Homo sapiens: one gene and its partners. The protein of the gene in region 2 interacts with the protein of the main gene of each other region in a pairwise test. Each region holds a gene or a part of one and is shown on either strand. Other genes may lie near its edges.

What was found.
Region 1: the proteins of EXOC7 (region 2) and PKNOX1 interact in a two-hybrid assay, tested with the Homo sapiens proteins (one large-scale study listed by BioGRID and IntAct).
Region 3: the proteins of EXOC7 (region 2) and BBS4 interact in a two-hybrid assay, tested with the Homo sapiens proteins (one study listed by BioGRID and IntAct).
Region 4: the proteins of EXOC7 (region 2) and ZC3H14 interact in a two-hybrid assay, tested with the Homo sapiens proteins (one large-scale study listed by BioGRID and IntAct).

The regions. Positions count from the first base shown.
Region 1 is NC_000021.9:42,977,382-42,981,393, forward strand, and holds part of PKNOX1 (homeobox protein PKNOX1), read left to right. Parts: intron 1-4,012. UniProt on the Homo sapiens protein: Activates transcription in the presence of PBX1A and HOXA1.
Region 2 is NC_000017.11:76,086,382-76,090,393, reverse strand, and holds part of EXOC7 (exocyst complex component 7), read left to right. Parts: coding exon of another isoform or gene 1-65; intron 66-222; coding exon of another isoform or gene 223-350; exon of another isoform or gene 351-652; coding exon of another isoform or gene 653-719; intron 720-1,073; coding exon 1,074-1,219; intron 1,220-1,470; coding exon 1,471-1,623; intron 1,624-1,831; coding exon 1,832-1,930; intron 1,931-2,271; coding exon 2,272-2,334; intron 2,335-2,673; coding exon 2,674-2,740; intron 2,741-3,501; coding exon of another isoform or gene 3,502-3,540; intron 3,541-4,012. UniProt on the Homo sapiens protein: Component of the exocyst complex involved in the docking of exocytic vesicles with fusion sites on the plasma membrane.
Region 3 is NC_000015.10:72,730,836-72,734,847, reverse strand, and holds part of BBS4 (BBSome complex member BBS4), read right to left. Parts: intron 3,544-4,012; coding exon 3,391-3,543; intron 3,294-3,390; coding exon 3,122-3,293; intron 1-3,121.
Region 4 is NC_000014.9:88,569,112-88,573,123, forward strand, and holds part of ZC3H14 (zinc finger CCCH domain-containing protein 14), read left to right. Parts: intron 1-1,972; coding exon 1,973-2,013; intron 2,014-2,918; coding exon 2,919-3,114; intron 3,115-3,466; coding exon 3,467-3,896; intron 3,897-4,012. UniProt on the Homo sapiens protein: RNA-binding protein involved in the biogenesis of circular RNAs (circRNAs), which are produced by back-splicing circularization of pre-mRNAs.

The DNA of each region.
Region 1 (4,012 bases), on a different chromosome or scaffold from region 2:
TTCGTCTCGCTGCCTTCATCAATGATCTTAGCTAGACCTGGATAACCTGGTGTTGCTTTTCTGTTAGGTAGCACTTGCTGCTTCACCTTGTACTTTCGTGTTATGGGGACAGCTTCTTTCCTTAAACCTCATGAACCAGCCTCTGCTGCTTCCAACTTTTTTTTTTTTTTTTTTTTTTTTTTTGAGATGGATTTTCACTCTTGTTGCCCAAGCTGGAGAGCAATGGCGTGATCTCGGCTCACTGCAACCTCCACCTCCCGGGTTCAAGCGATTCTCCTGCCTCAGCCTCCGTAGTAGCTGGGAGTACAGGCAGCTGCCACCACATACAGCTAATTTTTTGTATTTTTAGTAGAGACGGGCTCTACTAAATGTTAGCTAGGCTGGGACTTCTGACCTCAGGTGATCCACCTGCCTCAGCCTCTCAAAGTGCTGGGATTACAGGGGTGAGCTGCCGTGCCTGGCTCCAACTTTTCTTCTGCATCTTCCTCACCTCTCTCAGCCTTCATAGAATTGAAGAAAACTTGGGCCTGGTTCTCGATTAGGCTTCAGTTTAAGGGAATGTTGTGGCTGGTTTGATCTAATCAGACCACTCATACTTTCCACATATCACCAATAAGGCTGTTTCACTTTCTTTCCCTCCCTCCCTCTTTTTTTGAGACTATTGCCCAGGTTGGAGTGCAGTGGTATGATCATGGCTCACTGCAACCTCTGCCTCCTGGGTGCAAGCAATTCTCTTGCCTCAACCTCCCGAGTAGCTGGGATAACAGGTGTGCAGCATGTGTCCAGCTAATTTTTGTATTATTAGTAGAGGTAAGGTTTCACCATGTTGACCAGGCTGGTCTCGAACTCCTGACCTCAAGTGATCCGCCCGCCTTGGCCTCCCAAAGTGTTGGGATTACAGGTGTGAGCCAACGGACCTGGCCATTTTCTTATTCATGTGTTCACTGGAGTAGCACTTTTTAATTGCCTTTAAGTTTTCCTTTGTTCTGAGAGGTGATTTAAAATTTCAAAAATTTGTGTATGTATTTTTTTAATTTCAAAAATTGGAAAGAAACTTCTGCTTTGCATTTACAACTTGGCTAACTTGTTTTTTTCTTTTCTTTTCTTTTTTTTTTTTTTTTTGAGATGGAGTCGCTCTGTCGCCCAGGCTAGAGTGCAGTGGCGCGATCTTGGCTCACTGCAACCTCTGCCTCCCGGGTTCAAGTGATTCTCTTGCCTCAGCCTACCAAGTAGTTGGGACTACAGACGTGAGCCACCACGCCCGGCTAATTTTTGTATTTTTAGTAGAGACAGGGTTTCGCCGTATTGGCCAGGCTGGTCTTGAACTCCTGACCTCAAATAATCCACCCACCTTGGCCTCCCAGAGTACTGGGATTACAGGCATGAGCCACCGCACCCAGCCCTTTTTTGTTTTTTTTTAAAGAGATGAAGTCTCCCTATGTTATCCAGGCAGGTCTCAAACTCCTGGCCTCAAGTGGTCCTCCTGCCTCAGCCTCAGGCATGATCCACTGTTCCTGGCCTTGGCTATGTTTTTGAGAGACAGGGTCTCATTCTGTTGCTCAGGTTGGGATGCAGTGGTGAGATCATAGCTCACTGCACTCTTGACCTCTTGGGCTAAAGTGGTTCTCCCACCTCAGCCCCCTGAGTAACTGGGACTACAGGGATGTGCCAGCATGCCCAGCTAATTTTGAAAAAGTTTTGTAGAAGTGAGGTCTCATTATGTTGCCTCGGCTGTCTCTTAAGTTCCTTTCCAGAATGGTGAATCCTTTCAAGCCGCCTTCCTGCCTCGTCCTTCCGAAGTGTTGGGATTACCCATATGAATCACTGTTCCTGACCTGAACATCAAAGATCACTGATCACAGATCCCCGTAACAGACATAATAATGACAAAGTTTGAAATAGTGAAGAATTACCAAAATGTAACACAGACACAAAGTGAGCTCCTGTTTTTGGAAAATTGGCACCAATAGGCTTGCTTTCTTCATACAGGGTTGCCACAGATCTTCAACTTGTGAAAAACATAGTACCTGCTGAGTGCAATAAAGCAAAACACAATAAAAGGTAAAATGAGGTGCTTATAGCCAGGCGCAGTGGCTGACGCCTGTAATCCCAGCACTTTGGGAGGCCGAGGCGGGTGGATCACGAGGTCAGGAGATCGAGACCATCCTGGCTAACACTGTGAAACCCCGTCTCTACTAAATATACAAAGAATTAGCTGGGCGTAGTGGCGGGCACCTGTATTCTCAGCCACTTGGGAGGCTAAGGCAGGAGAATGGCGTGAACCCAGGGGGCGGAGCTTGCAGTGAGCCGAGATCGCGCCACTGCACTCCAGCCTGGGTGACACAGCGAGACTCCATCTCAGAAAAAAAGAAAAAAGAAAAATGAGGTGCTTATAGTCTGTTGAATCTAAAATGCAGCAGTGTGTTATACCACTACAGATGCTCCCAGTGCCTTCTGGCACGCTGCTTTCTTACCCCATCAGTGAAGGATGCTTTTCACTTCAGACATTTAAAAGTGTGCCTTAGAATTGATGAAACATGGTCAGTGAAGTATGACTTGTTTCAAAGATTAACCTTCTGCGCTTATGATCTAAGTGCCAGCAGGTTCTGTGGTAATGATACTGAGTACAATGCATTTTGTTGGGATTCCTGTACTCTATATGTAGTTAACGTTTCTCTGGCAGTAACTTTAGAAAAGTACTACTTGTGAGGCCAGGTGCGGTGGCTCACACCTGTAATCCTAGCGCTTTGGGAGGCCGAGGTGGGTGGATTGCCTGAGGTCAGGAGTTTGAGACCAGCCTGGCCAAGATGGGGCAACCCCTGTCTCTACTAAAAATGCAAAATTAGCTGGGTGTGGTGGCAGGAGCCTGTATCCCCAGCTACTCGGGAGGCTGAGGCAGGAGAATCACTTGAACCAGGAGGTGGAGGTTGCAGTGAGCTGAGATCGCTCCAGTGCACTTCAGGCTGGGCGACAGAGCAAGACTCCATGTCCGAAAAAAGAGAAAAAAAAATACTACTTGTAAATAGCAGAAATAGAAAGGTGCTACTTATGAGAAGTAACATCCTATTTGCGGCTTACACTTTTGTTGCAAATTGTTAAAAGTGTCTGAAACTGTTTAGAAGGACAGCCTGAAACTGCTAAAGTGATGCAAAGTATAGACTCTGGTGGGAGAGGGGGCGTCTTAAATTTTCACGTTTGCTTGGCCTCTGGGGGCCTCTTAACAGCACTTTAAAGGAAATAAATAGATGAAGAAGAGAACAAATTATTTTGAAATACAGTTATTAAAATACTGTATTGAACCAAATTGGTGATAGTCCCATTTATTAGCTTAGTAACCGGATTGAGCTGTGGCTCTGGTAATTCATTTGGGAGTAGTGACGAGATTTTTTGTGACACTCTAATGCTTTGGAAAATACCTGTTGCTGTTCCTGCTAAAACTCCAGGGCTTATTGTCTGCCTTTGTAATTGAAGGAGTGCTACATTTCAGCTAGAAGTTTTTGCCTTTTATCATTCATGTTCACAAATACCAAGTTGATTTACTCTCAGCCTATCCATTTGTAGGAATATATGGTGTCCTTTCTTTACTTCCTCAAATGATTATATTGATGACAAAAGAGACAAGGAAATAAAAACGGCACAGATAGGGGAACCCAAAGCCTAACAGTGTGTGTCCTTGGAGGTGAGGGTGAAGGAAGTGGCTGCAGGCCCTGGGAAGTACCATCTTGCATCCGTGTGCAGCACTGAGTGGATACCTCATGGTTCTGTCTTGTGTACACTGTTCAGGAGGACATGTAGAGTGGACATATCACATAGAAGAAGGTCAGTCTGGAAACTGTTAGGAGAAGCACTCAAGGGCTGAGAGGCATGGTCCTTGGTGGAAAGAGCCAGCAGGCCTGGTGCTGGCGGTGCCCTGCTCGTGACAGTGTGCAAAGTCTGGAGCCTGGCCTGTTCCCGCCCTTGGCAGATGGTAGCTCCTTGTTTTGGATTATTAGCCCCTGCCGGTTTAGTTACT
Region 2 (4,012 bases):
CGAGCATGATTTCCGAGTTAAGCACCTGTCCGAGGCCTTGAACGACAAGCACGGGCCGCTGGCCGGTGAGTACCGCAGCCCAGCCCGAGGGCAGCCGCTGACACTGCCTTCGCAGCGGTCCCCGGATGGCCTGCTCCTGCCTGGCCCAGCTGGGCCCACTCTGCTCTGAGGATGGGCCAGGCCTATGCGCCTCTCTCTCCACTCTCTCTCTTTTGGGCCTAGGTCTCCTTGCCTCTCTCCAGATGGGAGTGCGTGCCTGTCTGTCAGGCCTGGGCCAAGGGGAGAAGCCGCTGCTCCTCGGAAAGCAGGCAGAGAGGGAAGGTGGCTCCCTTGAGGGCAGGGAGCCCTGACGTCCGCCTCCTGCAACAATTCAGAGCTCTGATCCCCTCGGAGCCCATCCCTTGGCACATAGGACCAGGCAGTTCTGCCGCCGGTTTTGCCTGCAGGCGCCCCCGCCGTGGCCTCCAGTAATAGGGTCTGGCCTCCTCCTGGGGCAGCTGGCAACCCCTCCTCTCTGGGACTTACCAGCCTCTTAGATTTTGACCCCATGCCAGCCAGCCTCAGAAGCTGCAGCCAACCACCCTCTTAGATGTTCCAGAAGCCCTGACTGGGCTGGTCACTTCCTTCACAGGCCCCGCATTTGCCCACATGGATGACCCCAGTGCCAGCCTCCTTGAGGTGGCACAGCCACCTGCCCACCCTGGGCTGCCCTCTTTCAGGTACAACTCAGAATGCTCAGTCCTGGGGTCAAACCACCTTATCCAGGACGCTGATTCAGGAATCTTCCCTCCTTATCTTTCCATCCGTCACTCTCCTGCCTCTGGTGTCTGATCCCACTGTCTGCGCAGAGCCGAGAATGAAGCCAGAACAAAGGCTGGGCTCAGCTCCTTTTATTCCCCTCGAACCTGGCGGGGCCTGCTGGCTCCCTTGCAGCTTTCTGCCAGAACAGTCAGCCTCTTCCCCATCCTCTGCCAGTGTGGGGTACAGGCCAGGAGCTGGGGGACCCACGCCGCCCCCAGCCAGGAGTGTGGCTGGCCCCAGACCAGCAGCTCAAGAGTTGTGCCATCCCCCAGGGAGAGATGACATGCTGGACGTGGAGACCGATGCCTACATCCACTGCGTCAGTGCCTTCGTCAAGCTGGCGCAGAGCGAGTACCAGCTGCTGGCCGACATCATCCCCGAGCACCACCAGAAGAAGACCTTCGACTCCCTGATACAGGTCCCGCCCCGCCCCGGGGGCTCTGCAGCCAGCCCCAGCAAGAGCTGTCACAACAGACTCTTGCAGCCCTCAACTCCACCCACCACCACCACCTCGTGCCCTGGGGACCGGTCCTGGGTGGACGCTCACCACCTCCCCGTCACCCCTCTTCCTGCACACTGGCCCCCCTACATACTGCAAGGATCCCCCACTAGCCCAGAACTAGCTCCCACCGCCCCACCCTTCCCTGAACTGTCTCCCTGCCCCCTCAGGATGCCCTGGATGGGCTGATGCTTGAAGGGGAGAACATCGTGTCTGCTGCCCGGAAGGCCATTGTGCGACACGACTTCTCCACGGTGCTCACCGTCTTCCCCATCCTGCGACACCTCAAGCAGACCAAGCCTGAGTTTGACCAGGTGCTCCAGGTATGTGGGCGAGGGGCCCTCAAAAACACAGCCAGGAGGCATCGTGCTGCCGGGTGTGGCCGCCCCATCCCTCCCTGGGAGAACCCCATTCTCTGTCCCACACTTCTGCTCTGAAGGTGCATGGAAGCAGCTTAGGAAGGGCCCTGGGTGAGTGAGATGCTCACAGAGCGACTGGAGGTGAGCTGGGGGCTCCCCTGTGCTTCCTCAGGGCACGGCTGCCAGCACAAAGAACAAGCTGCCTGGCCTCATCACATCCATGGAGACCATCGGTGCCAAAGCGCTGGAGGACTTCGCAGACAACATCAAGGTCCCTGCTGTCCTCCCCTTTCTCCCTCCCTCCCGGCCCAGCACCACAGTGACCTGGCCCTGGGGGACTCTCAGAGCAGGCCTCCAAGAGGGTGCGTTGTCCCGGGGCAGCCAGCTGCGCCACTGGCCTGTCAGCACCCATGTGCCTTCCTTTCCTTCCTGGGGCCTCCAAGCCCTCTGAAGTGGGAAGGGCCTCTCCCCCTTGGTCCAGCCTGGCTCAGCCTTTGTGCCTGAGAGGTGTCCTAGCACCCGTCTGCCAGGAGGCGGCACCATGAGCAGGTGCACTGGGGCATGGGGTGGGCTGGGGGCTGCTTCAGGGAACCAGAGGCTGTTTTTCCACAGAATGACCCGGACAAGGAGTACAACATGCCGAAGGACGGCACCGTACACGAGCTCACCAGCAATGTGGGTGCTGCCTGAGGACACCAGGGAGAGGGGAGGAAGGAGGGCCCAGGCCCAGGCCCAGGGCCAGGCAGAGTACTGGTGGAAGGGACTCAGCCTGGCCCAGAGCCGCTCGCACCTTTGTGAGCAGTCCTGGGTGGCAGGATGGACAGTGACATGTTTAGTGTCTCTAGCAGACAGGGCCTTTCCTGGCAGGCTAGAGTGAAAATGAAGTTTCCAGCCGCGCTCTTCACTGGGCGGATCCCAGCCCTGGGCTGGCCCTGGGCACTCAGAGGGGTCGCTGTGGGAGGCCGTCGGCCGGGCCTGCCACTTGCCCTTCTGCACCGTTTTCTTCCCACCCAGGCCATCCTCTTCCTGCAGCAGCTTTTGGACTTCCAGGAGACGGCAGGCGCCATGCTGGCCTCCCAAGGTACTGGTACCTCCCAGTTGGGCCCCCTGCCCCACTCGCCTCCTTGCCTGGAGACATGGGGTTAGAGGGCAGGTAGCAGTGAGGAGGTATCTCCAGTCTGTGGAGGGGTTGAGGTGTGCTCAGCAGAGGGTCCCTGGGGCTGAGCATCAGGAGAGCAAGGTTTGCCTGCACCTTTCAAGACCAGACACTGGACCTCTGGCCCCTCCCTCAGCCCCTTTGACCGTCCTCGCCCTGGAAGCAGTGTCCTCACTCTGGGAGCGGTGCTGGTTGGTTGGAAGGTGTCCTTTCTGCCCCTGCCCCCCTCCCAAATCCTTCTCTCGTGTCTGCCTGCTCTCCTAATCAGGCTCGCTCAGCTGGCCTTCAGAGGGTAGCAAGTGTCTCAGGGCCCGCTGGGCGTCTTCCTGCTGGCCCTGCCCTGGGACTGGAGCTCAGGGGGTTGGCCTGTAAGCAAGAGCACCTTTCTGGGTCATTCCAAGCACTGAGGTCCCTGGGCCCTCTCCTCCCGTCCCATTTTGGGGGCAAGGAGCCTGTGGGCAGCCTCCAGCCTGCAGTTCTCAGCTCTCTACTTTCCAGGGTGTTCCCTGGTCCTCAGAGGGTCCCGCCTGCTGTGTCTTGCTATCTGTGTTTTGGCTGTCGTGGGGAGAGGTCTGCTTAATTCGGGTTGACATGCCGTTTCTAACCTGTTTTTTGCACTTTGCATCTTTCTCCCTCCTTTGTCTCTCCCTCTGTCCCCTCTGTGTGCACTGCCTTTCACTCCGTAGTTCTTGGGGACACATACAATATTCCTTTAGACCCCCGAGGTAAGCAGTGCGGTTCTGCAGCCCCCTCCTGTCCCTCTGAAGCTTGGTGGGTGAGGTTCCCTGGGGACTGACTCTCAGTACCTACTGGGGAGCCTGAGTCAGAGGGGACATGAGTTTTCTCGGGGTGCTCTCAACTCTCTCTGCTCCCTTCAAGGCCACTCTGTCTCTGAGCTTATCCGCAGCACCTGCCCAGGCTAGAGCCCTGGATACACCCCCTAGGCTCGCCCGGCCTCCCTGCCTTGCTGTCCCCACTCGGCCTTCCCCACTGTGCAGGCCGCAGCTTCGTCTGTTCAGTAGGGTCTGGTAGAGGGGATGTTCGAATGTAGGGGAGAAGGTGGAGAGGCTGTGGGGAGCCCATTCTAAGACTCTGCTGTTGACAAAAGGAAAAAGGGGGCCTTGTAGAAACCACCCAGGGTGGGTGGGGGCAGGAGGGGACAGGGCGCTGGCATCTCACTCTTTTCCTGCCAGCTTT
Region 3 (4,012 bases), on a different chromosome or scaffold from region 2:
GTCAAAGTCCCCACCTGCCTCCATTCCACCTTCCACAGCGCTGCCAGGTATCTCACTGCCTTACAAATCTGACCACATTACCATCCTACTTAGGAATCCTCACTGGCCCCCCACATCTATAACCATGATCTTTACACTTTCATTTAGCAGTAAAACACTCCCCCCACTTTTTAAAATCAGTATTTCCTTGACACCTAATATATAAAACAAAAACAGCTGCTCTGGAAGCCCTGCCCATTCCACCTCCCCACCAGCTATGCACTCACTCCTACCAGGCACCTAAGAGGAGATCTAGGAAGACAGCTGGACAAACATGGCCTCTAAGATAAAGTCCTTGCACTGTACGCATGACCTCCATAATCTGACCCCAGAATATCTTTCCTGATTCATCTCCCATCATATTCTCTAACACTAACCCCCACTAACAGCAAGGGACACTGCAGTTTCATGGCTGCATGCCTTTCTTCACAGTGGCTCCTCAGCCATTCTGTGCTATTCCATTTTAGCTTGTTGTTCAGGATCCAGTTTGAATGCCATCTCTACTTTGTAAAGTTAGCATCGCTGTTATCTCTTACATTATGGCTGTTTACATTTCTGTGTTCCATTAGAACCCAGCTATCTAAAGAAACTATCAACACAGTAAACAGACAATGTACAAAATGGGAGAAAATATTTGCAAACCATGCAGGTCTAATATCCAGGATCTATAAGGAACTTAAGCAAATTTACAAGAAGAATACAATCCCATTAAAATGGGCAAAGGACATAAACAGACACTTCAAAAGAAGTCATGTATGCAGCCAACAAGCATATGAAAAACTCTATCACTGATTAGAGAAATGCAAATTGAAACCACAGTGAGATAACCATCTCACACCAGTCAAAATGGCTATTATTAAAAACTCAAAATATAACATCCTGGTGAGGCTGCAGAGAAAAGGGAATGCTTATACACTGTTGATGGGAGTGTAAATTAGTTCAACCATTGTGGAAAGCAATCTGGCAATTCCCCAAAGAGCTAAAAATACAACTACCCTTCGACCCAGCAATCCCATTACTGGGTATATGCCCAAAGGAATGTAAATCGTTCTGCCATAAAGACACATGCATGTGTGTGTTCAATGCAGCACTATTCACAATAGCAAAGATGTGAAATCAACCTAAATGCCCATCAATGGTAGACTGGATAAACAAAATGTAAATGTACACCATGGAATACGACACAGCCATACAAAAGAACAAGATCGTGTCCTTTGCAGCAACATAGATGGAGCTGGAGGCCACCATCCTTAGCAAATTAATAAAGGATAGAAAACCAAATCCTGCATGTTCTCACTATAAGAGCTAAATGATGAGAACACATGGAGACACAGAGGGAAACAGACACTGGAGCTTACTGGAGGAGGGGGAGGGCCAGAAAAAAATAACTATTGGGTACTAGGCTTAGTACCTGGGTGATGAAATAATCTGTACAACTAATCCCCATGACACACGTGCCTGTGTAACAGGATGCACATGTACCCCTGAACCTAAAATAAAATTTTTAAAAAAAGAGAGAGGAATGGAGTCTCACTGTGTTGCCCAGGCTGTACTCCCAACTCCTGGGCTTAAGCAAACTTCCTGCCTTAGCCTCCCAAGTAGCCAGCACTACAGGTATGTACCATCACACCCCACTTTAGCCTTTTTATTCTGATGTTTTGACATCTGGGGCCTTACTGACCCTGGGGAGACTGTCCCTCCCACAGTCAGCTAATTCCTAGATATAACCCCTACAAGAGTACCTTCTGTATGCAGACCGACCAACCCAGTGTTCATATTCTTAACTGCCTCCTTTACTGGGCCCTGACACTGGGCCAATATTCCCTAGTCCTAGTCACCCGAGGGTCAGGTACCAGACACCTAGAGACAGCCCTATAGCCCAGAGCCCACTGAAATTATTCAAACTGGCCAATCCCCAACCTGGTTAACCTGCTTTCCCGGTCTTGCCCCGGGGAGGGCATTTCTACCCATGAAAACTACAATAAAGAATTGTGCCCACATTTACCCCTTGCTCCCTCTACCTCCTGATTGACCTGGTGCTTCCCCATGTGGCCCTGCACGGTGTAGCATGCCCTCCTTCTCAGGAATTGTAACAGACTATCTTTCCAGTGGCAGATGTCTTCTGATCTGTTGCCCATACCATATCTGAATAATAATAAAACCTATGTTTTTTTTTTAAAGTTATCTTTGTATTCAGGCAACCCTCAAATAACCACAATTGCTTTTGCAAGCTTTCTCTTTTAAATAAGAACCCACAGTAATGAACAAAAAGCCACTGGAAGACGACTGCCAAATGAGGACATGGAAATCTGCTTTGGGTCTTACATTTAGTAAGTAAATGTATATGGAGAAAAAAATTCCTAGAAAGACTAGTCAGTACTTTAAAATGGTTGTGCATAATTGTTAAAGTGTTTGATTAATTTTAACTTATTTTTATGATCAATTTTAGTATTTGCATGGCATAAAATGGAGTTTCAGGAAGAGAATGGCATTCTATATAACATGCTCAGAAGAGATAAGGGTTTCAACATAAGGTAGCTTGACTTGGAAGTATCACCTAGGGGCCAATTATAGTAACAACAATATTGATAATAATAGACCAATTATATAACCACAGTAAAACCAACAGTTTTCAAAAATCAGTATTTCAACAAAACCAGTATTATTAATTGAGAGCTTAATCATGCAATCCTCACATCAGCCCTAGGTACATATAATAAGTAGTAGAGGCAGGACCCTACCTAAAACCCAAGCTCTTAACACTTGCTGTCTGGAACTTAGTTGGACTCAATATATACATAAATGAATTGTCAAGGCAAGAGGAAAAAACTGGTAAAAGGTGAACTAGGGATGATCTTTATTTAACCTGTTGGTCTCTGAGTCAAACTCCCCCAAGTTAGAAACAACCAAGTTCCTTTGTCATCTTTTTCTATTTCTTCAAGCTCCAGGACAGTAATCCAGATTCCTACAGGATCTCTAAGGGAATGGCTCCTATGAGACAGCCACTGATCTTCTATGATTCTAATCCATTTTTCCCTCATTACAGATGGCAGAGAGAGTTTTCCACATAAATGTTTCTTACCTGCCAAGAGCATGTAGAGCTCCCCCATCTTTGGCTGGAAGTTGATGGCCGCACTGAGAAAATGAAAAGCTGATGCATACTGCTGCATGGTCAAATGGACAAGGCCCAAATTATACAGAATCTTCCAATCAAAGGGTGCCAAGTAGTTGGCTCGTTTCAGGCAGCTGATGGCCTATGAGAGAGAAGGGGCACTCAATGAGAAGGGCAAGCTAAACAGACCCAATAACCACATGTAGAAATACAAACAAAGAACATGAGGGGACACTCACCGCCACATATTTCTTCTTGCCAAAGAAACACATTCCAATGTTATTCCAGAGTGGAGGACTTTCTGGAACAGCACAAGCCACAACTCTGTATTTGGTGAGGGCAACATCAAAGTCCCCGTGGGTCTGCATCATGCTGCCTGCTGCCAAGATGGCCTGAAAACATGGCACAGAGAAAGTCATTCAGTCATTCCCAAAAGGCTGTAGCAGTGGGGCAGCTTTCCTGAGTCTATACTCAGCAGGCCCATCAGCATAGATGGGACTGGAAAATTTCTTCCAGGGACATAAATATATCCAACCTATTGGGACAAATGTTCCTGAGGAATGTCCTTGCACTCTACACTGTGGCTCTCTGGCACAGCACAAAAAAAAAAAAAAAAAAAAAAAAAAAAAAAGATAAAATGTTACTTGCTTTACCCATCTGTTTCCTACTTCTAGCCAGGAAAGTCAGTATTTCAGAATGAATACCAGAGCCCTTTAAGTAAAAACTTCCTTTAATCTGTTCTCTGCAGCCCCTATTTGGTATACCAAGTGTTCTAGATACCTGAAATACACCTGTACGTGGCTACTTAAGGTAAATTTCTTTCTACCGTAGAACAGAGGGCGAGTCAGCTTTAGGCTTCAT
Region 4 (4,012 bases), on a different chromosome or scaffold from region 2:
CTGCCTTGGCCTTCAGAAGTCTTGGGGTTATAGGTATGAGCCACTGCACCTGGCCAGCTTCTGTATCTTATAGTTCCTTTTCCCCCACCAAAACCAGTTACAGATGTTTTTTTGAACTGGGTTGGCTTCTTACATTGCCTTTTACAATGAGTTACCTTTAGAGGGCAAGGTTTTCTGTTTCTCACTTTTCTGTTTCTTACTTTTTAAGCTTTTTGTTAAACTCACACCTTCATTTTGAGTAATAATTGTAGTGTAATGTTACAGCATATTTTGAGATTATAAGTTTTTTTAAGTTTGGAATTTTAAAATAGGCAACTTTGCTTTTATACATAAATTACTGTTATATGCCTTTAGTTGAGAATACTGACTAGAAGAGTAAGATTCAACTTAAGATGCTAGGTCCTGGTACCAGGTTTGAGGTAAAGTGAGGATGAGGGCTGGAGGATAATGATGTAGCTGAGAATAGACAGACGAAATACTTTATTAGGCTTCTCAGGCTAGGAACTACCAGTTACCGTGAAAGGTGATGATGTAGCAGAAGTGAGCAAGTGGCCTGCCGAATTTGAGTGCAAGAGGAGGCACTGAGTGGGGAGATGAGCCTGGTTAAGTTCTTGCCTTTATACCAAAGGTCGTCTTCAAGGTGTTTTTGCCCAAGTAGGCAACTGTATGCTTATCAACCGTCTTGAAATTCTGCACAGAATTCTCTGGGTTTATACATTGCACAAATTTGAAGAACATTGTATAGTGGTCATCAGTTGTTATGATACACTGCTGCCTCACTGTGGGTGACCCAACCCATTTGTTACAATTTGTCCCCAGAGGTTATTCCCTCCCAGCCCCCCACAAAAAAAGACTGTGGGTCTTTTGACTGGGAAAATTACCATTATTGTGAGTACTATTTTTTTTTCTAAAGCGACCGAGTAGATCCTTTTCTCCGATAACTTGATAGAATACTTAGATTTTTAAAACAGACTACCAAATGAATTTAAAACCAAATTAATTCAACATTCTCATCTGGCCATAAATTGAGTTCTTTAACATGTAGTGAAGCAAAGGGTGATGTCCCCATTTTGGCACTTTGCTTTCTTAAGTTAGTGTTCATTAACACCAGCCCCAAACAGACTATTGTGATTATTTGGAGCCTTGAAGTAATTGTGTCCGTGGGGACAGTAGCATGTGACTAGGGTTCTCATTGAAACATGAGGTTTCTGGCATATTTTGAGAGGTACTGGGAAGGGATGTAAGGCAAAGTACCTCATTTATAACTACCAAAACAGGTTATGTTACAAGCAAGATTACAGCCTTACAGCATCAGTTTTGAAAGTAATAGAGTGAAATGATATAGCATAGTTTGAGATTATAACTTGTTTTAACCTCTCAGAATTAAGTTGTCCAAGACACCATCTAGTTTAAGCAGTTAATATAAGCTGCTTAAATGGTGGTAATAATAAGCAATATTACATGTTTATGATACTTGTTTTACTGTAAGCTACAGTAAATCTTTAGTACTTACAAACAGGGTGACATATTTTGTAGACTAAGACTGGTCAGATGATATTCTTTCCCATATTTTTGCAGAGGCTAGATGTTGAAAACAGTGAAGAAAAAAATACAATTTTTTATTGACTTCTGTAGGATTTATACAAAGCCCTTTTTTAAAAATGTGAAGTTTGAAAGTTCATACCATTTATTCACTAAATACAGTTTATCAGTATTTATCTCAGCTAGGTGCGGTGGCTCACGCCCGTAATCTCAACACTTTGGGAGGCTGAGGCAGGTGGTTCTCTCAAGTCCAGGACTTCAAGACCAGCCTGGACAACACAGTGAAACCCCATCTCTATTTAAAAATAATAAAAATATAAAAAAATTTAAAAAATTATCTCTGAATATAATGTCATAAATTTAGAGTGACAGTTGAAATGAAATCTTTCTTAACAGAAGGTTTATTTTTGTTTTTTGTTTTTTTCCTCAGGCTTCATGGTGTATTAGATAAACTTCGCTCTGTTACAACTGGTAAGATTCATAACTTTTTTTTTTAATTTCTGCTTGCTATGGCATATGATTTGTTTCTTTCTAAAGTCATAGTGCTTTGGGAAAAACCCATCAATTTCAAAACGGTTCATTTGAACTTTTTTAGAAAGCACATACTTTTATGAACTTAAGAGCAGTAAATTTAACATAATTCAAAGATAATTTAAGTGTGGGAGAGGGAGCAGTGCACTTTATCCGAAGGAAATAATTACATATATGTGCAAAGATTTAGCCTCAAGGATATTTCAGTATTTTATAATTGAAAACAATTTAAAAGTTCAGTCATAATAAACGAAATTGTTGTATTACCATGTGTGGAATAATATTTAACTATTAAAAATAATGTTGTGGAAGAATAACAGAATATACACGCATAAGATACATGTTTTAAAAAATGTGTATATATGCTCTTCCCCCGAAAAATCACCTTTGAGATAATTGGTGATTTTTATTATATTTTTAAAATTTTCTACAATAAACATACTGCTTTTGAATTGGTGATGAGGAAGGAAACGACTTAAAGTAATAAAAATAGATGGCCGGGCACGGTGGCTCACGCCTGTAATCCCAGCATTTTGGGAGGCCAAGGTGGGCGGATCATGGGCTCAGGAGATGGAGACCATCTTGGCCAACCAACATGGTGAATCTCCGTCTCTACTAAAAATACAAAAATTAGCCAGGCATCGTGGCACATGCCTGTAATCCCAGCTACTTGGGAGGCCGGGGCAGGAGAATCGCTTGAACCAGGGATTTGGAGGTTGCAGGGAGCCGAGAACGCGCCACTGCCCTCCAGCCTGGCGACAGAGCGAGACTCCATCTCAAAAATAAATAAATAAATAAAAATAAGAAATAAAAATAGATTAAAAGGACTGTATTTTTCTTTTCAGAACCCTCTAGTCTGAAGTCTTCTGATACCAACATCTTTGATAGTAACGTGCCTTCAAACAAGAGCAATTTCAGTCGGGGAGATGAGAGGAGGCATGAAGCTGCAGTGCCACCACTTGCCATTCCTAGCGCGAGACCTGAAAAAAGAGATTCCAGAGTTTCTACAAGTTCGCAGGAGTCAAAAACCACAAATGTCAGGTAAGAGTCTGGTGTAGACCTGCTGGGGGCAGATGGCTCTGTGTATGTGACATTTATATTAGTTTTTATATCTTTCAGTTTGCTGTTCTCAGCAATTTTTAGAAACAATGAAGTGATCGTGAGTAGTTTTTTGAATAAAATAATGGATAAGATCTAAGTATGATTATCTTTTATCACAAATTTAGTAAATCAAAGTTGAAAGAAAGTGCAATTTCAAAGCAGTTTTGAATGGAATATGTAAAGGGAGTATCCTCAGTTTTTTCATTGAAATTTTTCAAGTAAACATTCTTTAAAGATTTGGTGATAATTGCCCTAATTTGGCTGTAATACATTTTGTTGTTCTTTTAAATAGACAGACTTACGATGATGGAGCTGCAACCCGACTAATGTCAACAGTGAAACCTTTGAGGGAGCCAGCACCCTCTGAAGATGTGATTGATATTAAGCCAGAACCAGATGATCTCATTGACGAAGACCTCAACTTTGTGCAGGAGAATCCCTTATCTCAGAAAAAACCTACAGTGACACTTACATATGGTTCTTCTCGCCCTTCTATTGAAATTTATCGACCACCTGCAAGTAGAAATGCAGATAGTGGTGTTCATTTAAACAGGTTGCAATTTCAACAGCAGCAGAATAGTATTCATGCTGCCAAGCAGCTTGATATGCAGAGTAGTTGGGTATATGAAACAGGACGTTTGTGTGAACCAGAGGTGCTTAACAGCTTAGAAGAAACGTATAGTCCGTTCTTTAGAAACAACTCGGAGAAAATGAGTATGGAGGTTTGTATGTACTTTTAAATTCTGGCTTAGGCTAAAAATCGGCAGTTCTTGATACCAAATAATATATGAAGTAACTAAACACATATTCCAAGGCTGGGCACAGTGGCTCACACCTG